7 separate regions of the Homo sapiens genome follow, and all the other regions are reported to be linked to region 7. Evidence: microRNA targets listed by miRTarBase, many of them from high-throughput screens and not tested one by one. Region 7 holds a microRNA gene; each other region holds the end of a gene's coding sequence. Distances are between the middles of the regions.

The links. Region 7 holds the annotated microRNA hsa-miR-3187-3p (UUGGCCAUGGGGCUGCGCGG, at 1,557-1,576, shown strand). A microRNA usually pairs through its seed, bases 2 to 8, with sites in the 3' UTR of a target mRNA and lowers its output. Matches are read on the target gene's strand: a 7mer-m8 pairs with bases 2 to 8, a 7mer-A1 pairs with bases 2 to 7 and ends in A, and an 8mer does both.
Region 1: miRTarBase lists SYT2 as a target of hsa-miR-3187-3p. Seed matches in the 3' UTR shown: 7mer-A1 at 1,222-1,228.
Region 2: the mRNA of ABCA6 is a reported target of hsa-miR-3187-3p. The part of its 3' UTR that is shown has no 7-base or 8-base seed match.
Region 3: miRTarBase lists NPHP3 as a target of hsa-miR-3187-3p. Seed matches in the 3' UTR shown: 7mer-A1 at 1,073-1,079.
Region 4: miRTarBase lists SGSM1 as a target of hsa-miR-3187-3p. Seed matches in the 3' UTR shown: 7mer-A1 at 2,657-2,663.
Region 5: the mRNA of JPT1 is a reported target of hsa-miR-3187-3p. The part of its 3' UTR that is shown has no 7-base or 8-base seed match.
Region 6: the mRNA of U2AF2 is a reported target of hsa-miR-3187-3p. Seed matches in the 3' UTR shown: 8mer at 1,069-1,076.

What each region holds. Positions count from the first base shown.
Region 1 is chr1:202,593,504-202,597,569 of GRCh38, reverse strand. It overlaps SYT2 (synaptotagmin 2), which reads left to right. Exons shown (of 9, transcript NM_177402.5): 9 at 607-4,066. The coding sequence ends at 813. Among named protein-coding and RNA genes, the nearest start is that of SYT2, 110 kb to the left of the region's middle.
Region 2 is chr17:69,075,372-69,079,447 of GRCh38, forward strand. ABCA6 (ATP binding cassette subfamily A member 6) reads right to left here. Exons shown (of 39, transcript NM_080284.3): 38 at 3,839-3,894; 39 at 3,331-3,703. The coding sequence ends at 3,602. It also overlaps a transcript of ABCA9 not described here. Among named protein-coding and RNA genes, the nearest start is that of ABCA9, 16 kb to the left of the region's middle.
Region 3 is chr3:132,678,481-132,682,549 of GRCh38, reverse strand. NPHP3 (nephrocystin 3) reads left to right here. Exons shown (of 27, transcript NM_153240.5): 27 at 460-1,941. The coding sequence ends at 640. It overlaps UBA5 (ubiquitin like modifier activating enzyme 5), which reads right to left. Exons shown (of 12, transcript NM_024818.6): 12 at 2,756-4,069. It overlaps NPHP3-ACAD11 (NPHP3-ACAD11 readthrough (NMD candidate)), which reads left to right. Exons shown (of 45, transcript NR_037804.1): 26 at 460-636. Among named protein-coding and RNA genes, the nearest start is that of UBA5, 20 kb to the right of the region's middle.
Region 4 is chr22:24,923,752-24,927,827 of GRCh38, reverse strand. SGSM1 (small G protein signaling modulator 1) reads right to left here. Exons shown (of 25, transcript NM_001098497.3): 25 at 250-3,642. The coding sequence ends at 3,554. Among named protein-coding and RNA genes, the nearest start is that of LHFPL7, 21 kb to the left of the region's middle.
Region 5 is chr17:75,132,527-75,136,602 of GRCh38, forward strand. JPT1 (Jupiter microtubule associated homolog 1) reads right to left here. Exons shown (of 5, transcript NM_016185.4): 5 at 2,722-3,724. The coding sequence ends at 3,576. LOC107985034 (a long non-coding RNA gene) reads left to right here and starts at 3,724. Exons shown (of 2, transcript XR_007065907.1): 1 at 3,724-4,076.
Region 6 is chr19:55,673,391-55,677,466 of GRCh38, forward strand. U2AF2 (U2 small nuclear RNA auxiliary factor 2) reads left to right here. Exons shown (of 12, transcript NM_007279.3): 12 at 544-1,326. The coding sequence ends at 678. It overlaps EPN1 (epsin 1), which reads left to right and starts at 1,836. Exons shown (of 11, transcript NM_001130072.2): 1 at 1,836-2,045. RefSeq lists silencers at 1,398-1,617, 1,788-2,117.
Region 7 is chr19:812,071-816,070 of GRCh38, forward strand. MIR3187 (microRNA 3187) reads left to right here and starts at 1,514; the gene lies at 1,514-1,583. PTBP1 (polypyrimidine tract binding protein 1) reads left to right here. Exons shown (of 15, transcript NM_002819.5): 15 at 1-242. PLPPR3 (phospholipid phosphatase related 3) reads right to left here. Exons shown (of 8, transcript NM_001270366.2): 3 at 3,596-3,781; 4 at 3,116-3,257; 5 at 2,816-3,011; 6 at 2,622-2,679; 7 at 2,364-2,537; 8 at 418-1,825. The coding sequence ends at 500.

The DNA of each region.
Region 1 (4,066 bases), not on the chromosome of region 7:
TGCCTCACTGCTTCTCACCCTATACCTCAATGACTGAACATCTAATGTTTCTCAGATGCCAAATGCACTCTCAGGTCTCTATGCCTCTACCCAAGCAAATCTGTTTTCCTGGAATCCTCTTCCTTCTTTTCTCCTCCTAGAGAAATTCTCAGACTTCATGTCCCAGTCACCTCTTCTGTGAAGCCTTTTCTGATTGGCCCCAGGACTGTCACCTCCTCTAAGTTTCCACAGTACCTTGTGCCCATCTCTCTAGCATAACCTTTATCAATTCATGTTGTAAGTTTTCAGTTACATGTCTGCTGATCTCATTGAGGAAGTGAAATTCATCTTTTCACTTTTCCTTCCCTCTTCTCCCCCTCCAAGTGCTTAACAGGGTCTAGAGCACAGTACATCCTCAATAAATGCCCAGTGGTAGAAACAAAGGCTGCCAAAGGCGTGGCCTCTGCCTCCATGTCAATTCAGTCTTCACTGGAGCAGAGATGAAACCAAGGAGCCCCAGGAGGCCTTACCTTCCCAATCATTGGGAGTAGAGGTTGATGGAGGATAAATTTGGTCATGGGATCCCACGTCTCTGTCTGCCAACTCCCTCCCTCGTTTTCCTTGCAGAAAGTCCAGGTAGTGGTCACCGTGCTGGACTATGACAAGCTGGGCAAGAACGAAGCCATAGGCAAGATCTTCGTGGGCAGCAATGCCACGGGCACAGAGCTGCGGCACTGGTCCGACATGCTGGCCAACCCCCGGAGGCCCATCGCCCAGTGGCACTCGCTCAAGCCTGAGGAGGAGGTGGATGCACTCCTGGGCAAGAACAAGTAGACAGCAGCGGCTGGGACCCCACACCTTTCACGGACACTGACAAGATCCAGAGCTATCAATACCTCAGTTATGCAACCTTAGAGGTTTTCTTTTTTCTTTCATTTGTTGGGTGGTTGTGTCCTTGTTTTTCCTTGTTTTTCTCTTTTTAAAGACCAACTTCCCTTTGATGGCTGTGTGAGGAGAGTCCCCTAAGAGGTGAAAGAGAAGCCTGGCTCTGTTCACGGTCCCAGGAGCTGTCCTTGCTGCATGCCCTGTCACAGTTCCCTCGACTCTTTCAAAGCTTCACATCTGCCTCACCCCAAGCGAGGCTCTCTACTGGCACAAACTTGCAGCAGTTCCTGTTTTTTGAGCCTTCTGGACCAACAAAATGGCAGCACATCCTGCTTCCTGACAGGGAAGGCATCACAGTGGCCAATGATCGTGTGTGTGTGTGTGTGTGTGTGTGTGTATGTGTGTGTGTGTGTGTGTGTGTGTGTGTGTGTGTGTGTCTTTGAGCATTTCTCTTCATTCCTGGAATGTGTGTGTGTGTGTGTCTCTTTGAGCATCTCTCTTCATTCCTGGAATGAGCCATGGACAGTAAAGTTGTGTGGGAAAAGAAGGCTCTTTGGGGACCCTGACATGAAGAAGTCCACTAAGTGGGAGATCTTCTCTCATCTATGGCAAAGTCTCAGGATCCTGTTCAGATATCGGGGCTTTCATACTCCTGTTGGTGGCTATTTGGGAGGCAGCAAGATGTGAAGACTGGATGTGTTCAGAACTAGGACCAAACGATGCCATCAAATACTTCCTCCTGCCAGTCATGGTTTCCCCAGAAGTGTAGTTCCTGGGACATTCATGGATATGAGCTATTCACTAGTTGGGTCAGACTAACAGGGACTCTCAGTCCCAAAATCTCACTCTTATTGACAATAAATATCAAACTATGAAGAAACAGAAGTCCCATTACCAGAAAGACCAAAATTAAACTCCTGGATCTTCACCCCATCCAGTGGGAAACACAGATGCTTTCTCCCTTTCCAGAATATAAGCAGCCAAGTTCATTTGCATTTATTCCCCATTGTGCTTTTGCTTCTGTTTCTCTTTTAAGTGGAGCAACACTGTCTGAAGACACGTTATCTGTGCAGAGCCAGAGAACTTTAAAAGGAAAGTTTAAATGTTCTTAGTTCTCCTGAGGTCCAGGTAAGAAGGGGGTGGTAAGAAGAGGATGGGGGACAGATGGCTGAGATCCCTTGGGAGGAGATATAGGGGAGCACTGGAATTCCCCCGACTCCCACTCCTTGCTCCCTTGGCCCTCTGCCCTCCATGCTGGAGAGCTGATAGGTAGCTGGAGTGGCCCAGGGAGACCTATGGGAAGGACCCGTCCTACCATTAGGGGGCTTCTCTCTATGAATGCTAAGAAACAAAGGGCATCCATTCCAAATGAGTAGCAGAGGTGACCTTCTAGGGTTTCTACCCATGCTCAGTTGTATCCCATTCCCTGTTCACCTTTTGTCCCCAGCACTGATATAAAAGCCATATATATGTTAGTCAGGTTTGCACTGAGTCTTCTTCCAATCCTTCAGCCTGGACAACAGAGTGAGGTCCCCTTGTGGCCAGAGGCCAGCCCTCCTTGCCTGCCTTCCTTTGACCTCTCTTTTCCATCCATGAAGCCCTCAGGCCCTTGCCATTTTTTCACCACAGAAAACTCATGGCTTCTCCAGAAGCCTGAGTATCTCTCTTTCCCAGCACAAATGGCAGCATCTCTATCCTGCCCCATCTGGGCCACTTCAGCTTCCTGTAGACACCCAAGACAGATGGACAGTGTTGGAGGGAATCAGGCTTTGAGGATCCAGTGTGAAGAAGTTGCAGAGTGTCTTTTTATTTTATTTTAAAAAGGGGGAAGGGGCTTTTGGTTTTGCTTTGTTTTTTGGATGAAGGAGTGAGGGAAATGAGGGAATACCCCCACCAGAAACAGACTGGAAAGCCTGCCTGTCTCTTGGAGATCCTTCTTTGTCTTGTTAGTGGTACATGGGAAGTTATGTTTTTACTGGTGTGTGTGTGTGTGTGTGTGTGTGTACTTAATGATGGGAAGGTAAGACTCTGATCAGGATTATGAACTGCGGTCCTTGGGACCAAAGGTGTGGTCATGGTAGAGAGTTGTAGGACAATAGGGTGTTTTCAGAATCTGGGTGGCCACAGAGTGGGATTTCCTGGTATGGACATCAGAAGTCACTGGACTCTTCTCCCAACCCCAGAGTTATGGGATTTTGGTGCTTTCTCAGGGTCTCTCCCCAGACTCACTCTTCTCACCCATATCCCACAGACTCACTCATGGAGACCCCCTTGTCAATATCCCCTCTACCTTTACTCCTTTGCCCTTTCCCAATTCATCTTCTACCACCTGGATTCTTTTCCATTCATGAACTTCATTCAGCCCTTCCAAAGCCCAAGATTTGCATTCCCTTGACAGGGAGGAAAGGCAATGGTAGGAACCTCTGGTGGTCTGGGTGTCTATGTGCCTGGTGACCAGGGCTGGATTTTTATTACTCTGAGCCCACTGCTAGTGAGGAGCCTTGAGGGGTGGGGACAGGTTGCTGAGTGATTTTGAACGTTGACACCAGTGTGGAGCCAGTGTGGGTGTGGGGAGCAGTGCCTTCCTCAGGTCCCAGCTGGTCCTGATATGCCACGTAGTGGATGGCATCTGTCTTGGTCCATGGGCTTGGTGGGAACATGCTTCTGCTTGTGTGTTTTCCATACCTGAGGGCTGACGTAGCTTAAACCACAGGGCATCATGCCAAACACTCACTGCTGGGCAGGTTTATTTCTGGGGATGTCAGGGTACTGGGGTGTAGGCACTAAGCAGGATAGAGTTAGGGTGTCTGGCTAGTAAGGGGTTCTGGACGCCTCTGGGGCTGTGAGTTTTCATCTCAAAGTCTGTTCCAGAGAAAGGAAAGTAGTATAGAGGTGATTTTTAGAGAAGCTGAGACCATGAAAACAAGCCTAATCCCATCCAGAAACTGGGGTAAAGTCTGAAAGTTCGTTTTCTTCTTCCTCCCTGAATAATTGTTCCAGAAGGGATGCTAACTCTGCCAGAGCTACAGGCAGATTTTTGGGCTTTGGAAGTGGAAGCTGAGGCCTGGGGAAGGCTGGGTAAGGAATGCTGGGGCAATCTCAGACAGTAGGCAGGTGCTTGGCATGAATGAGAAGTGACTTTCCTGGAGTCCCTCAGTAGAGGATGAGATAGCAGGGATTAGGCCACAGTCTCAGATCCTGA
Region 2 (4,076 bases), not on the chromosome of region 7:
TTGAAGTCTTATGTTTAAATCTTTGATTCATCTTGAGTTAAATTTTGTATATGGTGAAAGGTGGGGGTCCACTTTGATTATTCTGCATATTGCTAGCTAACTATCCTAGGACCATTTATTAAATACGGAGTCCTTTCCCGATTGCTTATTTTGTCTGTTTGTCAAAGAACAGATGGCTATTGGTGTGTGGCTTTATTTCTGTGTTCTCTATTCTGTTCCATTGGTCTATATGCCTTTTTTGTACAAGTATCATGCTGTTTTGGTTACTGTAGCCTTATAGTATAGTTTGAAGTCAAGTAATGTGATGCCTCCAGCTTTGTTCTTTTTGCTTATGGTTGTTTCGGCCATTCAGGCTTTTTAATATAAATTTTAAAATATTTTTTCTAATTCCATGAAAAATGACATTAATAGTTTGGTAGAAATAGTGTCAAATCTGTAGATTGCTTTGGGGAGTATGGCCATTTTAACTATATTATTTCAATCCATAAGCATGTCATATTTTTCTGTGTCATCTATGATTTCTTTCAGCAGTGTTTTGTAATTCTTCTTACAGAGATCTTTCACCTCCTTGGTTAGATAAGTTAGATGTATTCCTAGGAATTTATTTTTTGTGTGGCCATCTATTTGGATACTTTCTATTTCCTTTTCTTGCATCATTGCTCTGGCAAGAAATTCAGTACTATGTTGAATAGGAGTGGTGAAAGTGAGCATCCTTGTCTTGTTGCAGTTTTCAAGGGGAATGGTTCCATCTTTTGCCCATTCAGTATAATGTTGGCTATGGGTTTGTCATTGATGTTTCCTATTATTTTTAGGTAAGTTCCTTCAATGCCTATTTTGTTGAGGGTTTTTATCATGAAGGGATGTTGGATTTAATCATAGGCTTTTCCCACATCTAGTGATATACTCATATGGTTTTATTTTTAATTCTCTTTATGTGGTAAATCACATTTATTGATTTGTGTATGTTGAACCAACCTTGTATCCCAGGAGTTAAGGCAAGTTGATCATGGTAAACTAAATTCTGATGTGCTGTTAAATTCAGTTTGCTTACATTTTGCTGAGGATATTTGTATCTATATTCACCAGGGATATTGTTCTGTAGTTTTCTTTGTTGTGTCTTTGCCAGGTTCTGGTATTAGGGTGATGCTGGCTTCATAAAATGAGTTACGGAGTAGTCCCTCATCTGTGAATTTTTAGAATAGTTTCAGTAAAATTGCTCAGCTCTTTTTTGTAAGTCTGATAGAATTCAGTTGTGAATCCATCTGGTCTGGGTCTTTTCTTGGTTGGTAGATTTTTCATTACTGGTTCAATTCTGGAACTTGGTATTGGTCTGCTAGGGTTTCAATTTCTTCCTGGTTGGATCTTGGGAGATTGCGTGTTTCCAGGAATTTATCCATTTCTTCTAGATTTTCTAGTTTGTGTGCATAGAGGTGTTCATAATAGTCTCAGAGGATCTTTTGTATTTCTGTGGGATCAGTTGTAATGTCGCCTTTGTCATTTCTGATTGTGCTTATTTGGATTTTCTCTCTTTTTTTTCTTTTTTAGTCTAGCTAGTTGTCTATCGATCTTGTTTATCTGTTCAAAAAACCAATTTTTGGTTTCACTTATTCTTCATGTGGATTTTTGGGCCTCAATTTTGTTAGTTCTGCACTGATTTTAGTTATTTCTTTTCTTCTGCTAGTTTTGGGATTTTGTTCTTGTTCTTCTAGTTCCACCAGGTGTTATGTTAGAGTGTTAATTTTACATCTTTCTAACTTTTCGAAGTAGGTATTTAGTGCTATAAACTTCCCTCTTACCACTGCTTTTGCTGTATTCCAGAGATTTTGGTATGTTGTATCTCTGTTTTCATTTATTTCAAAAAATTTTTTTTAATTTCTGCCTTAATTTCATCATACCCAAAAGTCATTCAGGAGAAAGTTTTTAAATTTCCATGTAATTCCATGATTTGGGGAGATCTTCTTGGTATTGCTATTTTTATTCTTCTGTGGTCTGAGAGTATGGTTGGTATGATTTCAACTTTTTAAAATGTATTGAGACTTGCTTTATGTCTGAGCATGTGGCCAATCTTGGAGTATGTTCTGTGTGCAGATGAGAAGAATGTATATTCTGTGCTGATCAGTGAAGTGTTCTATAGATGCCTGTTAGGTCCAATTGGTCAAGTGTCAAATTGAAGTCCAAAATTTCTTGTTAGTTTTCTACCTCAGTGGTCAATTTAACACTGTCAATGGGGTGTTGAAGTTTCCTACTACCATTGTTTGGCTCTCTAAGTCTTTTCATACATCTAGAAATCATTGTTTTAAGAATCTGGGTGCTCCAATGTTGGGTGCATATATATTTAGGATAGTTAACTCCTCTTGTTGAATTGAACCCCTTATTATGTACAATATGTGAACACCAAAAAATCACAGAAGGAATACTGCTTGGTCTTTGAATTTTTTTTTTTGGTGATATTCAGAATGAAATAGCTATTTTTAAGGGAAAGAATAAAGTAATATGTTAAACTGACAGGTATTTTAAAAATTAAATAATATAAAAGATATGTGGAAAATATATAGATACACCTACATGCACATACACTTATATAAGGGAGAAATGATTTTAAAAAATATCAAATCCCATAAAACTATTCAAAGATGACAAGGAAAATTAGCACCCCCTGAAAACAATAAGTTAATGTTGTTAAGAGTATGCAAAATTTAAAAAATCTGAACAAATACTACTGTGACTCCCTTTATTTTCAAAAGGTATAATGGAACTACTTTTCAACATGAGTGCTTGTCTACTTGTGTGTCCAAGGACCTCCTAATACTTGTGAGGTTTTTTGGTTTTGTTTTTGTTGTTTTTTTTTTTTTTGACAGAGTCTCACTCTGTCACCCAGGCTGGAGTGCACTAGCACATGGCTCACTGCAACCTCTGCCTCCCGGGTTCAAGCAATTCTCCTCCCTCAGCCTCCCGAATAGCTAGGACTACAGGCAAATGCCAACGCCCGGCTAATTTTTGTATTTTTATTAGAGATGGAGTTTCACCATATTGGCCAGGCTAGTCTCGAACTCCTGACCTTGTGATCCACCTGCCTCGGCCTCCCAAAGTGCTGGGATTACAGGCGTGAGCCACTGCACCTGGCCCCTTACTTTTGAGTTTTAAAGCAATTTCTGGAACACTTTCAGAAGACTCTTGAGTTGTAGTTGGTTATAAAAGAAAACCTGTATACCTGTTGTATCATGAACTGGTGTGAAGTAGTCATGCAACTCTTGGCTACTGAATATACCCTTCACATATTTCAGCAAGAGAATGTTTTGTAAAAGGTAAAAAAGTCATATTTTTAAAAAATTCTAAGTTTATATAGTTTTATTTCCACAATACCCAGTGCCTGACTCTTTGGGTGACTTTACTAATATTTTGTATTGCCTTTATCACAGGTTTGCTATCACCCCTATGTTTGAGAGGAAGAATAATTTTAAAATTTATGTATTTGTTAACTAAATTTACAAAATATACCTGATGTTAATTTTAAATGATCTTTAAAATTAAACATACTATTAATTATTACATAAAACATGAGTTTATAGGAGATCAACAAAAAATTACTAGGTTTGAGGTTTTAAGGTTCATCTGAATGAGGGAGGAGTTTCCATCTCATTGTTGTATCAATTTCTTCATCAAAATTTCCTACTTCCTGTTCTTTAGAAAGCTCTAAGAATACCTAATTAGGAGACAAAGAAGAAGGAAAGAAGGAAGAGAGATTATCAAGTTGTTGGTCTTCCAAATGAACAGGAAAATGCATGTTGCTTTCATGTGAAATTTACCAGATGATACAAAGTCAAACCACTTGACTTACCTTCTCCAGTGTGCACTGAGAAAGGCTGTATTCTTCCAGGTTAAAGTTATGCTTCACTGGAGGAAAAAAAAGACTAGTATTAATAGTAGATGCTTACAATTTATTACCAAGAATTTTTTCAAAATCATAAAGAATAAAAATGTAAATCATTAATATAAATAAAGCTGAATAAGCCAATGCTTGATGTAAGGATGAAATAATGAAAGCCATACAGAATTAATATAAATATATACTATGT
Region 3 (4,069 bases), not on the chromosome of region 7:
CCAGAAATGAAATGAAGCCTGCATGATCTATTTTGCAGAGGAGCATATGTATGCATCATGGCAAACAGTGAAGGATGGTTTATACTACATCTGGCTCTGGGAGTAATATGGGTAATTTGCTGTCCCCAGAGTGAAGTTGCCATTAAGTATATGTTGACTTTTGCTTGCTCATTTGTATTTTTCTCAGGATGCAGAGAATACCTAACTTTGCTTAGCAATTTCACTGCCTCTATTACAACATGGTTTTAATGATATCCATATGAGACACAAAAATACTGATACTGGTAGAAAGGAGAAGAGTTTGGGTGTTGTTTTACTGGTCTGCTTGAGTGAATACACTGGAAAAAGAGGGGAAATGGGCAAATATTTACAGCTTCTTTTTCTGTATCCCATAAGGTCATTTTGAATTGGTAAGAGGTTATATTCTCATTTTAAGAGTTTTTGTTTTCTCTCTCAAAGCTATGAAGGAGGAGATTTTGAAAAAGCTGCTGAATTATACAAAAGGGCAATGGAAATAAAAGAAGCAGAAACATCACTCTTGGGTGGAAAAGCTCCTTCACGCCATTCATCAAGTGGAGACACGTTTAGCTTAAAAACAGCTCATTCTCCTAATGTTTTCCTTCAGCAAGGACAAAGGTAATAGCAGCAGTTAGAATTCTTTGCAAATGTACCTTAAGACAAAATAATTAAACATTTGGAACATTTGAATTTGAAACTTTAAAAAAATGTTGTACGAAATTTTACTACGTGTGATTTAACTGCTATTTGTATGAAGTTGTATTGGATTACATTAAGTTGGAATTGTGATTATGTCTGTTTTAGTTGTTTAAAAGAATTTTCCTATTATATGGTATCCAAGGATGTAGACACATTAGAATTATAAGAAGACATGAGGAGCAAATCATGAAGAGCGGATTGGTCTTTGTTCAACAAGAGCTGGCAGAGTAGTTAAGACAAGGAGTTCAAAAATTCCATGAATCTTGGCCAGGCATGGTGGCTCATGCCTGTAATCCCACCACTTTGGGAGGGTGATGCAGGAGGATCACTTGAGGCCAGGAGTTGGAGACCAGCCTGGCCAACATGGTGAAACCCTGTCTCTACTAAAAATACAAAAAAAAATTAGCTGGACCTGGTGGCGCATGCCTGTAATCCTAGCTACTCAGGAGGCTGAGGCATGAGAATCGCTTGAACTCAGCAAGTGGAGGTTGCTATGAGCTGAGATTGTGCCAGTTCATTCCACCCTGGGCAACAGGGTGAGACTCTGTCTCAAAAAAAAAAAAAAAAAAAAAAAGAATTCCATGATTCTTTTGAGCTCTCAAGAGCTACTTTAGCCTTGCCATTCCTCTTGCTTTTCAGCAGTAGTCTGGCCCAATTCTCTACCTCAAAGGAAAGTTTCAAGGATTAAAGGGTTAATGTTTATGAACGATTCAAATTGTCTTCAGTGAAACACATTAGTCACAAGAATCCCTGATTGCTGCACTTTAAAAAATTCTTTACCTTTTCCTTGAGCAGATTGGTCCAGTCCCTCTGCTTTCTGTTCTGTCTACATTGTGTATTATTTATTACTATATAGTATATGTATCTGCATAATGTCTGAAGTCATTAATGCAGTAACAGGTCAAGCTCTTTAGCATTCTTTGACTTTTCCCAAAATATAGATATGACATTCTCCTTTATCTTCCTTCTTAGATGGCCTAAATCTGTCTCTTCATTTACCTCAAACTCAAATTAGTATGCCATTTTCATACTGAAAATTAAATATTTTTATGGATTTTATAAATATTGCAACATTTTAGATATTGTTTTGGACCATTTGTGTATTTATATATAATAAAATCATCAATTTAATACTTGTAAGATCCTAACATGTATTGATTGTAAAAGTGAAATATGTAATAGCCACACTTCACTGTTTTAAAATAAAAGTGCAATTTCAAGTTCTTTTTTCCCCACTCTAGTTTATACAAGAGGGCTGTTTTGCATGATTTTTAAAGAAATACGTTGAACTTTTTTTAGAACTTGAAATGGACCGGGCGCGGTGTCTCATGCCTGTAATCCTAGCACTTTGAGAGGCCAAGGCGGGAGGATCATAAGGTCAGGAGATCAAGACCATCCTGGCTAACACGGTGAAACCCCATCTCTATTGAAAAATACAAAAAACTAGCTGGGCGTGGTGGCACACACCTGTAGTCCCAGCTACTTGGGAAGCTGAGGCAGGAGAATCACTCGAACCCGGGAGGCGGAGGTTGCAGTGAGCCGAGATCACACCACTGCACTCCAGCCCGAGTGAGACTCCATCTCAAAACAAAACAAAACAAAAAACAAAACCTTGAAATGTTGTCAATACTTGCTGCTCAGTAGTTTGCTCAGCTTAAGGTTTTGGTTAATGTTCTCTTAAGGCCGAGTTACTATTCACAGGGTAGTCCACAAATCATTGTCACCACCACCTGGCAGCTTATTAAAAATTCAGACTCTCAGGCCTCTCCCCAAACCTACTGAATGAATCTGTATTTTAGCTAGATCCCAAGGTGACTAATGTGCACATAAGTATGAGAAGCAGTGGTATAACTCTACGGCACTATAGTGGTAATTTAAAAAGAAATGAGGCAGTATATAATGAGCATCCTTCTTCCTCCTTTGGGAGTAGTTCAAGAGGGAAAAATAGAAGATAAACTATAACCATAACATACCTTTCTGGGTTTGGCAGCTGTGAAAGACACAAAGTAATTGAAAACACAAATATACCAGACAATGATTTTAGAATTAAGCTGTTAGAGCTTAGAATTTGATTATTTAGTGGTACAAGTCATTTAATACATAGCAAGTAATGTGTTCGGTTTATCACCTTAGAAAAACTGCTTTAGAAAATAATGAGACCAGTACTCTAGAAGAACCCTGATAAAAGGAAAAACTACCTTAAGAATATTATTTATTCTTTGTACCTCCAAAATTTGTGCCTGAATAACTGTAGTTGGAGACATGATCACTCAAAATTATGTATTCCAAAAGAATGAAATTTAAACATAATAAACTATTTTGATATTACTATTTATTTTACTACCAACCCAAACGTTCTCATGTAGAATGCATACTTAAGAAGATAAAAATAGCTGGAACATCTTTGTGTATGCATATTTGAAGTTCTCAAATAGGAATATTTTCTTCACATTAATATGCACTTTCACAATGAAAAAGGTAGCTTTCAGACAACTCAATTATAAATCTGAATTGTTAGAGTACTTATTCTAGTTATAATTTTTATTCATCAATACCTTTTTTTTTGAGACAGAGTCTCACTCTGTTTTCCAGACTGGAGTGCAGTGGCACTATCTCAGCTCACTGCAACCTCTGCCTCCCAGGTTCAAGCGATTCTCCTGCCTCAGCCTCCTAAGTAGCTGGGATTACAGTCACGCACCACCACGCCCGGCTAATTTTTGTATTTTTAGTAGAGACGGGGTTTTGCCATGTTGGTCAGGCTGGTCTCGAACTCCTGACCTCTTGACCTACCCACCTCAGCCTCCCAAAGTGCTGAGATTACAGAAAGGGAAATATGAAAAAAATGTGATGCAGGGGTCAAAGCTTCCTTTAGTAAATATTCTTGGCTGGGCGTGGTGGCTCACACCTATAATCCCAGCACTTTGGGAGGCCAAGATGGGTGGATCACCTGAGGTCAGGAGTTCAAGACCAGCCTGGCCAACATGGTGAAACCTCGCCTCTACTAAAAATACAAAAATTAGCCATGCGTGGTGGCGGGCACCTGTAATCCCAGCTACTTGGGAGGCTGAGGCAGGAGAATCGCTTGAACCTGGGAGGCGGAGGATGTGGTGAGCTGAGATCGTGCCACTGCACTCCAGCCTGGGCAACAGAGTGAGACTCTGTCTCAAAAAAATAAATAAATAAATAAATATTCTTAAGTGGCCATTACGTTTTTTGTGTTGTTCAGTGTACGTATCCAGGGAGTATTTTTATGAGAAGAAACTAGTAATACTTATTTTCTCTACAACATTTAAGTAGAACCATAACTAACTTCCCATTAACAATAAGACAGGAATTAAAGTTGAATATGTTG
Region 4 (4,076 bases), not on the chromosome of region 7:
CAGCCTGGGTCCATGCTCCTTTTCTTTTTTTGAGACAGGATTTTGCATTGTCACCCAGGCTGAGGCACAGTGGCATGACCATGTCTCACTGCAGCCTCTATCTCCTGGGCTCAAGCAATCCTCCCACTTCAGCCTCCTGAGTAGCTGGGACCACAGACACACGCTACCACATCCAGCTAATTTTAATTTTTTTTTTGTTTGTTTGTTTGTTTTTGTTGGAGAGACGGAGTCTCATTATGTTGCCCAGGCTGATCTTGAACTCTTGGCCTCAAGTGATCCTCCTGCTTTGGCCTCCCAAAGTGCTGGGATTACAGGGGTAAGCCACTGTGCCTGGCCCATGCTCCTTTTCAGTGTCACTTTCCAAAGATTCTCATCAGGAAGTACAGTCTATTTCCCTACCCTATGAAGCTGGGCTGAGTCATGTGACTTACTCTGACCAACAGAATGTGGCAGAAATGACTTTATGCCAGAGAAGCTGAGACCAAGAGACAGTGTGTGTTTCTGCTTACCTTCTGGGATCTGCTATCATAGCCATGTAAACAAGCCTAAGCTAGCCTGCTGGAGGATGCAAGATACGGAATCCAGTTTCCCCCACTGCCCTAGTCAACAGCCAGACAACCATCAGAAGCAGAGTTGCCTATCTGGACATCAGCTGACCACAGACACATGAAGAAGTCTGAGAACAGAAGAACCTCCTAGCTGAACCTAGCCTGGGATGCTGACCCACAGAATTATGAGGTAAATACATGGCTGTTTTAAACCACTACTTTTTGGGTCATTTGTAATGCAGCATTACTTGTGGTAAGAGCCAGCTAATACAAGAAGTCAGAAGTGATTCACCTTTTCTGGGAAAAGGCCAGGCAGCTATTACAAAAATCTGACCCCATATAGGGTCACTGGGGTGTGAGTGGGAGGACACAGTCCTCAGAAGCAAGCATTTTTTTCTTTCAAATTAAAAAAAAAAAGACAAAAAAAAACAGATTCACATATTTCTCTGTTTATATATATTTTCTCTATATATAGACACAACTCTTCAGCAAACATTTACAAGATATGTGGGCCACACTGAAAAAAAGAGTGCACTCCGCGGACAGAACGAGTCCCACGCATCCAATTCCAGGACACAGAAACACACACAACATACAGAGATCTGAATAGGCACAGTAAACCAAATAAATATGACTTATTCCAAATCACAACCACAGATGCTCTCTGGAACATCACAAGAGAAGGCAGAGAAGAGATTTTGTGCTGTACTTTGAGACTAGTCTGTTAAAAAAATAAATAGGAATCAGAAGGTCTAGGACCTGGGTCTCACTAAAATAACATCCTCTGTAAAGAACAGCTGAACGGCAAAATAGTTTTCTCCGGAGGGGCCTTTTGCACATTTCTTCCTGTCTTGGGAAGCTAGGGGACGTAGGGGAGGGAGACGTAAGTCTAATGGCAGCCAGAACGTTGCCGTCTCCCGTTTCTGCTTTGGTGGGGGTAGGGTAGGAGCTGGGAGCCGGGAAGCTACTGTAGCCTCGAGTTTCCCACAGAGCTCTCTTCAGGAAGTAAGGGCTGGCTAGACCTCTATCCACCCTGCACCAGAGGCTGGGCAGAGGTTGGAGGTTCAGGTGCAGTTGAAGTTGCTATACCAAGGGAAAGAAGCCTTTACAAGCACACAAGGCAAGGATGCATCCCCGTCCTGGTGTGCTCAGGGTGGGAGGACTAATACACCCCTCCGCAAATGCTTCAATACGCTGCTTTACCTATCCTCTCCCTCTCCAAAATCCCAGCTGCTATTCTCTGACCACCCTAGAGGCGGCAGGTCTCCCGGGAAGAGCCTTTCTCTCTGCTGCTTGCTGGGTTTCCCCCATTCCGGGTGCATTCTCAGAACAGAAGAGCGGGAAAGACTGCTCTATTGAAAGGACAGGTAGGCAGAGTAAACTAGTTCACTTCGGGTCTGTTTGTGGATTGGTGATACTCTGTGTGAAGACCTGGAGAGGATTGTTCCCAGACCTAGCACGGCCCTGGACCCAGTTCATCAGCAGATGTTTCCCAAGGAAAACAGACATCACCCTCTACCCTGGCTGACCTCTGCCTTCCTTTTCCTCCTTTGTCCTGAGTGAGTAACTGCACTTAGAGAAAAGCTGCACCCCACCACCATTAAGTGGCTTTCACCAAACACACACCTTTCCAAGACCCAATACTTGGAAGGAGAGGCGGTTTTCCCTTGCAAGATGGCAGCAGGATACAGACTCTGCCCTGCCTGGGGGACTCTGAGCAGGACCCCAAAGAGCTCTGACCGTCTCATGCCTACACTTTTTGGGTCCACCGCCTATGTGGGGAGATACTTTTCTTGAAAAGAAGAAAACAAGTATCTTCTGGCATCAGACAGAGGAGAAAAAAGGAGAAAATACAACAGATGGAATCCCAGACTCCAAGAGAGATGTGTGAGGGACTCTTGTGTGCCTTTTCTTTTTTTTTTTGAGATGGAGTCTTGAACTGTCGCCCGGGCTGGAGTGCAGTGGCGTGATCTCAACTCACTGCAACCTCCACCTCCCAGGTTCAAGTGATTCTCCTGCCTCAGCCTCCCAAGTAGCTGGGATTACAGGCACCCGCCACCACACCCAGCTAATTTTTGTATTTTTAGTAGAGATGGGGTTTCACCATGTTGGCCAGGCTGGTCTCAAAACTCCTGACCTTGTGATCCGCCCACCTTAGCCTCCCAAAGTGCTGGGATTACAGGTGTGAGCCACCATGCCCGGCCTCCTGTATGCCTTTTCTAAGTGAGGGGAGGCGTCAGGACCAGGGTGGCTTAGCGTCAAAAGAATGGGGGAGGAAGTACATTTGTAGTCCCTTCTCCAAGCCAGTGGTTCTCAAATGGGGGCAATTTTGCCCTGCAGGGAACATTTCGCAATGTCTAGAGACATTTTTGGGGGCTGTCACAACCAGGGGTATGGTTGGGGGATGGCACTACTGGCATCTGGTGAGGCCCGGGATGCTGCTCAGCATCCTACAATGCAGGGGACAGTCCCCTCAAAAAGAATCACCTGGCCCCAAATGTCAGTAATGTCGAGGTGGAGGGTCAATCTCTAAGTCAATCTTCAGCCATGTCCAGAACATCGCCAAAGGCCCCTTGCAGAGGAGCATAGAGGTAGCCCCACACACCTCTTCTACACCAATTTCCAAAAAGAAGTTTCCTCCCCAGGTCTCATCTTACAAGACAGTTTGGAGGGATAGGGAAAGAAGAAGAGGAGACCATTCCGGGCACCAGCAAACAAAGATGGCTCCTCCTCCACCAACAACCTCCACCTCCTGCAAGGGAGGAACGCCAGACTTGGGCAATCTTTGGTCAAACAGGAAAATGTAAGGCTGAATTGAAGGGGTACTCCCTCCACCCCATCTGCCCAGAAGTAAAAGTCAGGGTAGTTTCTTTGCGCACTGAACTCCACGCTTGTGAACAGACACCAGGACCCCGCTCCCGGGGTGCCCATCCAGCCAGGAGGAAAAGTAAGCAGAGGAGCGGGGCAGGGGCAGCTTGGCTGAGGCTGCCGGGGTGAGGTGCCCCTCACTTGTTCTCAATCAGAGTCTGCACCTTGTACACGAGGTCCCGCGCCAGCTTCAGGACTTGCTTGGTGTTGTGTCGCTCAGCCATTTCTGAAAGAGCAGAAAGAAAAATCTCATGAGCCTCCTTCTGTGTCCAGTCTTAGGGTACAATTCCAGCCCCTGGAGGCTTCTCTGGGGGCATCTCCATCACAGATTGACTCAGGAAGCAGAGGCCCTGGAGAAGGCCTCTACCTCTGGACCTTAGTTTCCTCATCTGTAAAATGGGGATTGGAACAGCAGCCACCTCACCAAGTTACTGTGCGGATTGAATGGGATAATGCTGGTTCACAGGATGTGCCATAAAAAGGTGAGGTCGGCCGGGCATGGTGGCTCATGGCTGTAATCCCAGCACCTTGGGAGGCCGAGGCAGGTGGATCACCTGAGGTCGGGAGTTTGAGACCAGCCTGACTAACATGGAGAAACCCTGTCTCTACTAAAAATACAAAACTAGTCGGGTGTGGTGGCGCATGCCTGTAATCCCAGCT
Region 5 (4,076 bases), not on the chromosome of region 7:
AATGAATCTGTTAACTGGTTTGTGTAAGTCTAGCTCGTTAAGAGACTAATTCACACTAGAGTTGGCTTGAAACATGGGAGCTTCAAGTGTGGTTTCCCCCGGAAAGATGATTTTGATCAAGCACAGGTAATCAGGACTGTCCTCAGGACTTTATGTGGAACTGACATCGCTTACCTACTCCCGTCTAGAAAATGCTGAACAGGGCCAGGTGCGGTGGCTCACGCCTATAATCCCAGCACTTTGGGAGGCCGTGGCGGGCGGATCATCTGAGGTCGGGAGTTCAAGACCAGCCTGACCAACATGGAGAAATCCTGTCGCTACTAAAAATACAAAATTAGCGTGGTGGCACATGCTTGTAATCCCAGCTACCCGGGAGGCTGAGGCAGGAGAATCTCTTGAATCCAGGAGGCAGAGGTTGCGGTGAGCCGAGATCATGCCATTGCCCTCCAGCCTGGGCAGCAAGAACAAAACTCCTTCTCAAAAAAAAAAAAAAAAAAAAAGAACATGCTGAACTGTGATACATTTTGTTGACTCTTCTTTTTGTGGATGTCATGAAACTTCCTGACTCCACTCAAATCTATTTGCCTACAAACTATAAAGCCAGGCGCCGTGGCTCAGGCTGGTAATCCCAGCACTTTGGGAGGCCCAGGTGGGAGACAGCTTGAGCCCAGGAGTTCAAGACCAGCCTGAGCAACACAGGGAGACCCTGTCTCTACAATAAACAAATCAATAAGCTGGGTATGGTGGCGCATGCCTGTGGTCCTAGCTACTCATGAGCCTTAGGTGGGAGGAACCCTTGAGCCCAGGAAATTGAGGCTACACAGCCTTCATCCTGCCACTGCACTCCAGCCTGGGTGACAGAGGGAGTCCCTGTTGGGGGAGGGGAGAGCCAAAATTATAAACACAGATTTAAGTGGCCCATCTCGCCATTGTTCCCCATCTGATGAACCCACTGCTTCCAAATATATGTAACAGAGGCTGGGCACGGTAGCTCACGCCTGTAATCCCAGCACTTTGGGAGGCTGAGGCGGGCGGATCATGAGGTCAGGAGATCAGGACCATCCTGGCTAACACGGTGAAACCCTGTCTCTACTAAAAATACAAAAAAAAAAAAAAAATTAGCTGGGCATGGTGGCGGGTGACTGTAGTCCCAGCTACTCAGGAGGCTGAGGTAGGAGAATGGCATGAACCCGGGAGGCAGAGATTACAGTGAGCCAAGACCACGCCACTGCACTCCAGCCTGGGCCACAGCGAGACTCCGTCTCAAACAAACAAACAAACAAAACATGTAATAGAAGCATCACACACACAAAAAAACCTGACAGGGCCGGGTGCAGTGGCTCACGCCTGTAATCCCAGCATTTTGGGAGGCCGAGGCAGGTGGATCACAAAGTCAGGAGTTCGAGACCAGCCTGACCAACATGGTGAAACCCCATCTCTACTAAAAATACAAAAACTAGCCGGGCATGGTGGGACATGCCTACAAATCCCAGCTACTCAGGAGGCCAAGGCAGGAGAATTGCTTGAACCCGGGAGACAGACGTTGCAGTGAGCCAAGATCATGCCACTGCAGTCCAGCCTGGGTGACAGAGCCAGACTCCATCTCAGAAAAAAAAAAAGCCTGACAAACCAGTCTAAGAGGGGCTCAAGTCAACATGCATATGACTCATAGATACGCAGACATTTTGGAGGCCCAGACTTGCGAGTTATCTCAAGGGGAAGCAGTCTTGGGGGCTGAGCCCTCAACTTGTGGAATCAAAGCTATCTCCAGGTAACTGATTGTCAGAATTGAATTGGAGGGCCAGGTGAGGTGGCTCATGCCTATAATCCCAGCACTTTGGGAAGTCGAGGTGGGCAGATTACTTGAGGTCAGGAGTTCGACACCAGCCTGGGCAACATGGCATAAACCCTGTCTCTACTAAAAATACAAAAATTAGCTGGGTGTGGTGGCACATGCCTGTAGTCCCAGCTACTCGGGAGGGTGAGGCAGGAGAATCGCTGGAACCCAGAAGGCAGAGGTTGCAGTGAGCAGATTGTGCCACTGCACTTCAGCCTGGGCGACAGACTGAGACACTGTCTTAAAAAAAAAAAAAAATTGGAGGACACCTAGCTGGTATCCACTGCAGAATTGCTTGCTTGCTTGCTTGCTGGTGGGGAGAAATCCCCGCATATTTAAAGTTGGAGAACTTTTTTTGAGACAGGGTCTTGCTGTCACCCAGGCTGGAGTACAGTGGTGCGATCATGGCTCACTGCAGCCTTGATCTCACAGGGTGAAGCAATCCTCCTGCCTCAGCCTCCCGACTACAGGCGTGTGCCATCACACCTGGCTATTTTTGGTAGAGACGAGGTTTCACCATGTTGCCCAGTCTTGGAGAACACTTTAAAATGTTACTGCCCAGAACAAAGGGGAGGTAGAAGAGTCTAACCTGCTCATCTTTAGAGCCTTCTTCAGAAAGAAACCCACTCCTCTCTGGGTCTTCATCTGTTTTAAGATTTTGTTTTTTAAGGAGGTCTCGCTATGTTGCCCAGGATAGTCTCAAACTCCTGGGCTCAAGCATCCTCTTGCCTTGGCTTCCCAAGTAGCTAATTACAGGCACATCTGGCTATTTAACTTCAAATGACTCCTCCAATCAGTAGGCAGGATTTATAGTGACAAAGAGAAAAGCATCTAACCAGGGAGAACACTGAAACCATCTCAAAAAGAAGACACAGTACACAGTGTTTCAAAATGTGGATATTGTTTACTTGAAGCAACAGTCCAGGATTGTGAAGTACAACACATTTTAAGGATGAGACTTTCCTTTCATGGTCAAGCACCAGCATCATGCACACAGCATCAGGTTATTTAAAACAACACGCCTGTGGGACCCCGTTCCTGGAGGAAGACCCGCTTCAGTGTGATTGCCTCCCTTGCTTCACTGCTTTTAGTTCCAGGCAGTTTCATTGTACATCCAAGCCTTCCTCTGCGTGAGAGCAAAGGCTTTGCTCATCAGCCAGCCAGTCTTGTTACTATCTGGCTACTTTTTAAGGTTAAAAAATAAAAGGCAGTTTCTTTGCTTTGCAGGCGGCAAGGCAGGAGGCGCAGGCCTCTTCATTGTTCACATGTCACAGGAGGAGGCTCTGAGCAAAGGCCACTGGCAAGTTAGGGCAACACCAAGAAGGCTCTGCGGAGAGACTCCCTGTGGGTTGGGGCCTGGCAGGAACGGTGCCTGTGGACTGTTTATGGTCTGTCCAGTTGAGGCTTGGTAAACCCAAGTAAAGTGTTAAAAACCTCAGTACAAAAGATCCTCTAACACATCTGGAACCAAATTATTTCTTCTTAAAAACACAGTACTAAGTGTCACAAAGCTTTCCCTCCAATCTACTACTAGAAAACACTCATGCCATGGCCCACAGACCCAAGAGTCAAGGACAGAGAGAAACCTGTTCTTCAAAAGAAAAAAAAAAAAGACAGCAGTACATAAAGTGCTTCTTTTTAATGAAACAAATCCAAGAGATGTACAGTCAGGCTCAAGTTGTGCAGTTCACAAGCATGGAGGAAACAGACAGAACGACAGCGTTCAGGACAGTCAGAGCTAACCCAAGACGAGGCTGGACTTGCCGCCAGGGGGATTTCTTCTGGATGGCACTGGGGCCGGGGCCACCGGGCTGGGCACAGGCGCAGCAGGCACGGGCTTCTCTTCACTCTGCCCCAGGCTGCCTGGCAAGTCTGTGTCCACATTTTCTATGAAAACAGGGAATAGAAATAATACTCATAATGACAGCCATTTCCTGTTAAGATCAAGGATCTGTTTCTCTTTTTCTTTTTTTTTTGGTTTGATGGTTGGAAACATACCTAAAAGCATAAACAAAATAATCACCCACCATGCTCCCACTCCACAGAATTAACCATTGTTCATCTTTTCCCATATTTGTTGTTTATGTTCTTTTCTAAATTACACAAATATATAAGGACATGAAGTTTTTTTTTGTTTTGTTTTGTTTTTTGACGGAGTCTCGCTGTTGCCCAGGCTGGAGTGCAATGGTGCAGTCTTGGCTCACTGCAACCTCCACTTCCCAGGTTCAAGCAATTCTCC
Region 6 (4,076 bases), 55 Mb from region 7:
GTTCGTGTAGGCTCATTGTATCCTTCCCTCCCTCCATTTTCCTGTAAATTGGTTTAAGCAAGGTTAGAAGCTCGAATAGATCAAGGTTCAAGTTTTTAAATTTTATTCAACCTGGGTTTGAATCCTAATTTCTGAGCTTCCCTTAGTTCACTTATTGTTGGGAGAACATGGCTGTTGGGGTGGTTCTGGGAGCGCCCACCATGGTGGCTCGTGTGGAGTAGACACTCAGCACGAGGGACCCCTCCCCCGCGGTGAGCTCGTCTAGGCCTCCCGCCTGCGCTCTATGGCTCTGCTGAGTTTCTGGCATGTCTCTATTCTTTCTCCCTCTCCATGCCTATGGTGTGTTTATGCTCTTGTTTTTTGATCCTGGAGAATATTTGGGTGAACTCCACCAAACCTGCTTACTAAGGGTCCCTTTCTGACACCTGTGGCGAAGCCCCCTCCTCCCTGTCCCTTCCTGCCTTCAGTGCTGGGGTTGGGTGGACGCTGACTGGCTGTTGGGCGTGAGCCTTGTTCACAAACCTGCCTCTCCTTTCCCCACAGATCTTTGTGGAGTTCACCTCTGTGTTTGACTGCCAGAAAGCCATGCAGGGCCTGACGGGCCGCAAGTTCGCCAACAGAGTGGTTGTCACAAAATACTGTGACCCCGACTCTTATCACCGCCGGGACTTCTGGTAGAGGCGGCTGGGGGAGGGTGGGGGCAGGGCTGGCTGGGGGCTTCTCCCCACTCCCGCCCCCCCCTTATCCCCCTCTGAAGACGATGGGCAGAGGAGTGACAGCCGCAGACACACGACAGCCGGCAGCAACTGGAATGGCAGCAATTAAGGGTGGGGGGCGGGGGTTGGGGGGTTGGGGGGTTAGGGCAGGGAGGGGACTGGGGAAGTGCGCACACAGCCCACACAGACAACACGCACCCACACAGACACAGAGGGAAGGGGTTGGGATGGGGACAGGGTGCACAGCAGGGCGGGGTAGGACCCCAGCCCCTCCCAAAACAGCCTCTCCTTCTCCCATAGACCCCTTTCTTCTCCCCTTCCCCACGGTAGGAACATAGCGTGTTTATATTTTATGGCCAAACTATTTTGAATTTTGTTGTCCGGCCCTCAGTGCCCTGCCCTCTCCCTTACCAGGACCACAGCTCTGTTCCTTCGGCCTCTGGTCCTCTCTGGTCCCCTCCTGGGTTTCTTACGTAGTTGATTTTTCCTCTTTAGTCTCCCCCGACCTGCGCCCAGCCCCGTGGCCCCTGCCCCTCTCCTACTCTCTGTGGCAGTTTCATATTTGCTAAGACGAATTTGCTCATTAAACATTTTGTTGTATTTTACTTTATGGAGCGGCTGTGTGTCCAGTATGTCCGACCCTCTTCCTCGGTTCTGGGCTCGGGTGGGGGTTCCCTTGGCAAACTGCGGGCCCCTGGCTGGGACGCCCCTGCTGCCGGCGCCGGCAGCCTCGAGGCCTTCCCTGCTTGCGCGGTGCCCTTCTCGGGGTCGGCACAGGCACAGCCCCGGGGGACGTGAGGTTCCCGAGTGCTCTCCCACCCCGCCGACAGGAGGGATGGTGGCCGAGCGGGCCGGGGCGGGCGTGGCGTGGGTGTGCCAGGAGCTCCGCGGTTGCCGCCAAGCGAGCTGGAGCTGACTCTCGGCGTTCCGTGAGCACCGCGCGGATCCCCCGCTGCAGCGGGCGGAAGTGACGTAGAGGCGCCTAGCAACGGGGCCCAGCGCGCCGGAAGTGATGCCTTCCAGGTTGGCTTGGCTGCGGAAGCGACTCCTGCCAGGGCGGGGTGCGGCACGGGAGGGCGGGGAGCGCGGCAATTTCCGCTTCCGGTCCGTCGCCTCCTTCTGTTGCTTCCCGTCTCCTCGGCGGCTCCCCTCCCCCGCCCGGCTCTCCGCGCCCCTTCTGGGCGGCGGGGCGGCGGAGCCGTCGGCGTGCGGCCCTCCTTGCGTTCGTGCGTGCGCCCGTGGCCCGGCGCACGTCCCGCGACACCGAGGCCGAGCGGGGCAGGGGGCTGACCGCCATGACCCCCCAGAGCCCGGCGTGAGGGGGCCGAGGTGAGCGCGGGGCGGAGCGCGGGGGACGCTGGCCCGCCTGCTCCGGGTGTTCGGGCCTGGGCCGCGGCGCGCGCGGGCTCGCGTCTGGCCAGTTCTGGGTGTCTCTGGCGGCCTTTGTGTCTCTGCTCCTGTGTCGGCCTTGACTGCCCCCGTGTCGGTTGTCTGTGTCTGTCTCTCTCGTGTCTGTGTGTCTGTCAGCGTCTGTTTCCTGTGGGCCTCTGCCTGTGCCTGTTTCAGTGAACTTAGAAAAGGGTTTGGAGATAGGAGTGTGTTTGTGTGTCTGTCCCGGGTCTCTCTCTCCTCTGTCTGTCGTGTCTGTGTCTGTCAGGATTTGTTCGTGTCTCGTTGAGTTTCCGAGTCTTCTTTTCCCTAGGTGTCTCTAGCCCTTCCCTGCGGGCTTTTCTGCCTATGGTGCAAATCTTACCCCCGCCCCGTCTTCGCATCTGAGTTTTGCCCCCATACCTATCACCTCCAATCCTGAAGTTTCTTTCCAGGAGTCTGTTAACTTGATCTAGAATCTGCCCCTTTTCCCCAGTTTTCTGAGTCTCTGGTGTGATGGTGAAGAGCCCCAGCCTTGGATTCAGAAGCCCGGCTGCCTGCTAAGCTGTGTAATTGCCAGGTGATAGTCTCTGTGTCAAAACCTCAGTTTCCTAGTCGTAGGAAATCCATAGTTCGTAGGCATTCGTAGTTCCTACATCATAGGGTCCTTGTGCATGTAAGTTGAGGTGATGCTTGTAAAGTGCCTGACGGTATCTGACACATAGCAAGTGTGTAATTACTGGGAGCTCTGGTTTTTATTATTACAGTGCTTAGAGATTTTTACACAGTAAGTGTTAGATATCGGTCGGTTATTGGAGTACTCCTTGGAGAACTTTGCCATATCCTTTGTATTCTTTTTAATGTAAGAATTCTCTTTGAATCAATTTAATTTGAAATACAGTCTCATTCTAAGCAGTATCTGAGAAATCTCAGCTTTGATGTGCTAGTTGGGTAATTTTTTCTAATGCACGCCAAATAAGTACAGAGTATTAAGATAGTGCCTTTTCTGCCGCCACCCTTTTGGAAATGTTCTCTGTTTTTTCTCTGATAATAATAGCAGCCAGTGTTATTGAGCGCCTACTATCTGTGGGGCACAGAGCCAAGCACTGCATGTACCCATCTTATTTAATCAACAGGCCTACCAGGTAGGAATTCTTTCATTTCAGAGTTGAGCAAACTGTGTCTCAAGGAGGTGTGCGCTGCAGGTAGCTGATGTGGCCAGGATTTGAACCCACATTTTATATTCTTTGCCATTAGATTCCATTTTTCTTATCTCTTATTTCTCAGCGCCAGGTCTCTTTTTGTTTCTGGGCCTCTTTCTTCCTTGGCCTCCTGCCTCCCTGTCTTCCCATGTTCTTGTATCTGCTGCTGCCTGTGTTTTTCTCATTGTGTCTCTGCCTAGCTCCCTCTGCCCAGGTTTCTATGTGTCTCTTTCTGTCAGAACTGTCTTCTATTTCTTCTCAGTCCCCTTCTCTGCATTTGTTACATCATCTCTTCATCTTAATGTATTAGGCTGGGGCTGTTTTGGGACTCCAGAGAGTTACTTTTTAACTAGCTACATCTGTCTTCAGGTGCCTGGCTTTCTGGCCTGAGGTGGAAGCAGAGGCCAGCCTCTCTCCGTCATCCCTATCTCCCCTGGGCTTACATCATGGCGGGGCTTTGAAAATCTCCCTCTGTGGCTTCTTGGAGCCGCATAGATGGGTGATCAGAGCTGGCTCTGGAACCAGGCTGCTCCAGGAGTAAGGTGTGTGTCCCTGGGCAAGGGGCTGAACCTCTGTGTCTCAGTTTCCACCCTGTGAGGTGGCTATGAATCATGGGGTTGTTTCAAGGATTAACTGAGTTAATACATGTAAAGCACTTAAAACAGTGCCTGGCATGGGATAAGAGCAGTGCGAGTGTCTGCTGGTGTCATCATCATTTGCTTGACTCTCTTGTTTCTCGTCACCAGTCTCGGGATGGGTTAATTTAATTTAGGTTAATTTAAAAGTATGA
Region 7 (4,000 bases):
TTTTATGGTGACACAAATGTATATTTTGCTAACAGCAATTCCAGGCTCAGTATTGTGACCGCGGAGCCACAGGGGACCCCACGCACATTCCGTTGCCTTACCCGATGGCTTGTGACGCGGAGAGAACCGATTAAAACCGTTTGAGAAACTCCTCCCTTGTCTAGCCCTGTGTTCGCTGTGGACGCTGTAGAGGCAGGTTGGCCAGTCTGTACCTGGACTTCGAATAAATCTTCTGTATCCTCGCTCCGTTCCGCCTTCGTTGCTGGCTTCCTCTTTCTGTGCCGCGGGCGGCCCCGACTCCCGCCCGGGTGTCCGCCGAAGCGCCAGGTGGGGCCACGGGCGGGGTGGGCCCGGCCCTGAGAGTGGGGGTCCCTGCGTGGGGCGTGCGGGCCAGAGCGAATGACCAAGAGCCGGACCTCGGTTTCTGCCGCTTTATTGAGCATCCGCGCGGCCGCCCGCGCCCTCGGCCCGCCCCCCGCCCGCCCCCGGCCCCGCCGCGCTAGTCGGGGAAGCGGCGCGCCTGCATCTTGCGGAAGTAGCCCTCGGCCTCCGCCTCCGCCTCGCGCTCCGCCAGCCCCAGGCCGCCCGCGTGGCGCCGCAGCGTGGACTCCCGGCTGCCCGGGCCCAGCGCCCCATCGGCCGCGCCCAGCGGGGGCAGCCCCTCGCCCGTGGCCAGGTTGACGGTGGCCACGGCCCCGAACCGCGGCTCCTCCTGGTCCACGTCGCTGACCGACGAGCCGGGGGACACGCCCGGGGGCTTGGCCCCGCCGCGGAAGCCGCGCGCCAGGTCCCCCAGCTCGTAGCCGCCGTCGGCCTCCGCCTTGGCCCCGCCGCCCGCCGCCTTCCACTCCCAGGGCGCGCCGCCGGCCGACAGGTGCACCACGGGGTGGTGCGGCGCGTGCGCGTCGATGGTCACGATGCTGGCGGAGTCGCGGTCCGACGGCGACCGGTACTGCGAGGAGTCGGAGCTGGCGCTGGACGACGACGCCGTCTCGGCCGCCTTGGGGCCCGGCGCGCCCGGAGCCTTGGACATGGCGATGACCTGCAGCAGCCGCGGAGGGTTGGCCACTGCCGCCCCGCTCTTCTCGGCCATCATGAGCCACTTGGCGCGCACCCCGGCGCCGCTTTTGGGGGACAGGCCGGCCCCCGTCTGCGCGCCCTCCTCCGGGATGTGCACCAGCGGCGGCGGCCCCGCGCGCGGTGGGAGGATGACCCGAGGCCCCAGCCCCGGCCGCGCCTGCACGGTGGGGTAGAGCGAGGGCGGGGCCGGGCCCTCGTCCTCCTCCTCTTCCTCCTCCTCCTCTTCCTCTTCGTCCTCCTCCTCTTCCTCCTCCTCCGCCATGGGTTCGGCGGGCGCGCGCAGGTGCCCGGGGCTGGCGTCGTCGGGCAGCCCCAGGCCGCGGCCCTCCAGGCTCTTCTGCTTCCACTCGCTGATGAGCTGCTTGGAGCGCGAGGCGTCCAGCGGCACGTGGATGGTCATGTGGCGGCGCGCGGGGTCGTCCAGCGAGGGCGCGCTGGCCCTGGGCAGCGTGTGGCTGAAGGTCACCATGTTCTCCTTGGCCATGGGGCTGCGCGGGGCCAGCAGGTCCACGTCCACGCTGGCGCGCTTCAGGCTGCCCAGCGAGGTCTTCTCGCGGGCCACGGGCCGGGGCGCGCCCTCCAGCCGCCCTGGGGGCCCCAGCTCGTCGGTGCTCACCGACTTATTCTGCTGATAAACCGAGTCGTGGCCCCGCTGCGTCAGGGCCCGCAGCGCGTCCTTGGCGGGGGCCGGGGCCGCGGGCTTCTCTGCAGGTGGGGCCTGGAAGTTGCCCACCGCGTGGCAGGCCTGTCGGGGAGAGGGGTCTGGGGGTGAGGCCTGGGGCTCAGAGGGCTCCTCCCCTGTGATCGTTGGACTTGCCGCGGGGGGCTCTGGACCGGGGGTGGGGGCTGGCAAGCTCTTGTCCAGTGGGACCGGTTCCCACCCCAAGGTTGCTGACCCAGCACATCGGGCAGGTCTGAGCCCACGGGATTCTGACTCCAGCATTCCAAGGGCGAGACACTTCAGCACCCATGCCTTCCCCCTAAGACCCCTTCGGGACCCACGTCTATCCCCTCAGACACCCTGGGCACCCGTGCCTCCCCCCTAGAGCCCCTGGGCACCCATGCCTCCCCCCTCAGACCCTCTGGGCCAGCCCCCCGCCAGAACCCCTGGGAACCATGCCTCACCCCTCAGGCTACCAGCCTCCCCTGTCAGACCCCCTGAGCCTGCCTCCCACCTCAGACCCCTGGGCCAGCCTCCCCACTCAGGCCCTGTGGGCACTCATGCCTCCCCCCTCAGATCCCCTGGGAACCCATGCCGACCCCCATCAGAACCTGCCACTCACCAGGTAGGCAGCGATGCCCGCCCCGATGAGGAAGCCGGCATACACGTCCACAGGGTGGCTGCGGTACTGCGTGATCTGCGTGAGCCCGCATACGCCCGCGGCGATGGCAAAGGCGAAGACCAGGATGGGCTTCAGCAGCTTGGTGGTGTCCGAGATGACCGAGTTGAAGTACATCTGGGGCATGGGGGTTGGGGTCAGGGAGGGCTCCCCACGGGTCAGCAAGAGGGCCTGGGAAGGGCAGTGAGGGGCCGGACTCACCGACACATAGACCGCGGCGAAGGCTGACAGCGTGGCGTGCTGGGACGGGAAGGTCTTCCTGTAAGAGGCGTCCAGCGTGAGCCCCGCCCACCTGGGGACCCCAGCTCCAGTGGCCTCTCTGTGTCTCTGTTTCCCCGCATGTTCACCGGGGCGGAAGAAGGCTCCCAGTCAGGGGAGTTGGGGGTCCGGCTCACCGTGCAGACAGGATGGCGTGGATGTCGTGGCCGGAGCAGATGTCCTGCGTGATGTAGGGGTTGACCTCGCAGGACGTGCCCAGGAGAGTGTAGTTGGGCTTGCAGACGGTGAGGAAGAAGGGAGTGTGGTAACCCGTGGCCAGCTGGATCACGTCCGTCACCAGGGCTGTGGCACACAGGCCGAACACGTGGACACCTGCAGGGCGGAAGGCTCGGCCAGGCGGGGAGCTGGGGACCCGGGACAGCCCCACCCCCTGCATGTGGAGGTAGCTCAGGGTCGGGGCGCGTCCCGCAACTCACCCACAAACCGCACCGTACGCCGCAGGAAGGAGTTGAAGTTGCAGCCGCCGGCGTTGATGCTGCCCTCCGCCCCGGCGGGCCCCCCGGCACGGCCCCACAGCCGGGACTGCAGACAGTACAACATGCCCTCGGCCACCATGATCTGCCAACAGGGAGGGGGCGCTCAGGCCTCGGTGCCCACAGGGAGGGGGCGCTCAGGCGGGCTCCCATCTGCAGTGCCCACAGGCTGGCACAGGCCCCGGTGTGGATGTTCACCGAGGTGGCGGGGGTGGGCTCCCAGCCGTGGTGCCCACAGGCTGGCACAGGCCCCGGTGTGGATGTTCACCGAGGTGGCAGTGGCTGCGGTGCCCACAGGCTGGCACAGGCCCCGGTGTGGATGTTCACCGACAGGCCCCAGTGTGGATGTTCACCGAGGTGGCGGGGGTGGGCTCCCAGCCGTGGTGCCCACAGGCTGGCACAGGCCCCGGTGCAGGTGCTCACCGAGGCGGCAGGGGCCGCGAAGGCCAAGCTGAGCAGCATCAGCAGCGGGATGAGCTCCTCGTTGGTCTCCACGTAGGGCATGGAGAGAGTGCGGTCATAGCACTGGAAGCCCACCTTGGCCGGCTTGAAGAGGTCGGTCAGCTCCAGGAAGTACAAGGATACGATGGAAGAAGCCACTATGGGCAGCTGTGGGGACAAGGTGGGCCAGGTTCACCCTGCTCTCCCTCGCGGAGGCGTCTGTCCAGCCCTCCATGAATTCAGGGCCATCCACCGTCTCACTCACCTATCCACAGATCCAACCCGCTCCCAGCCACTCTTTCCCCCATGAGTTATTCATCCATCCACAGATGCTCCATCTGTAACTCGACCATCTACACATCACACACCCACTCACTCATCCTCCAT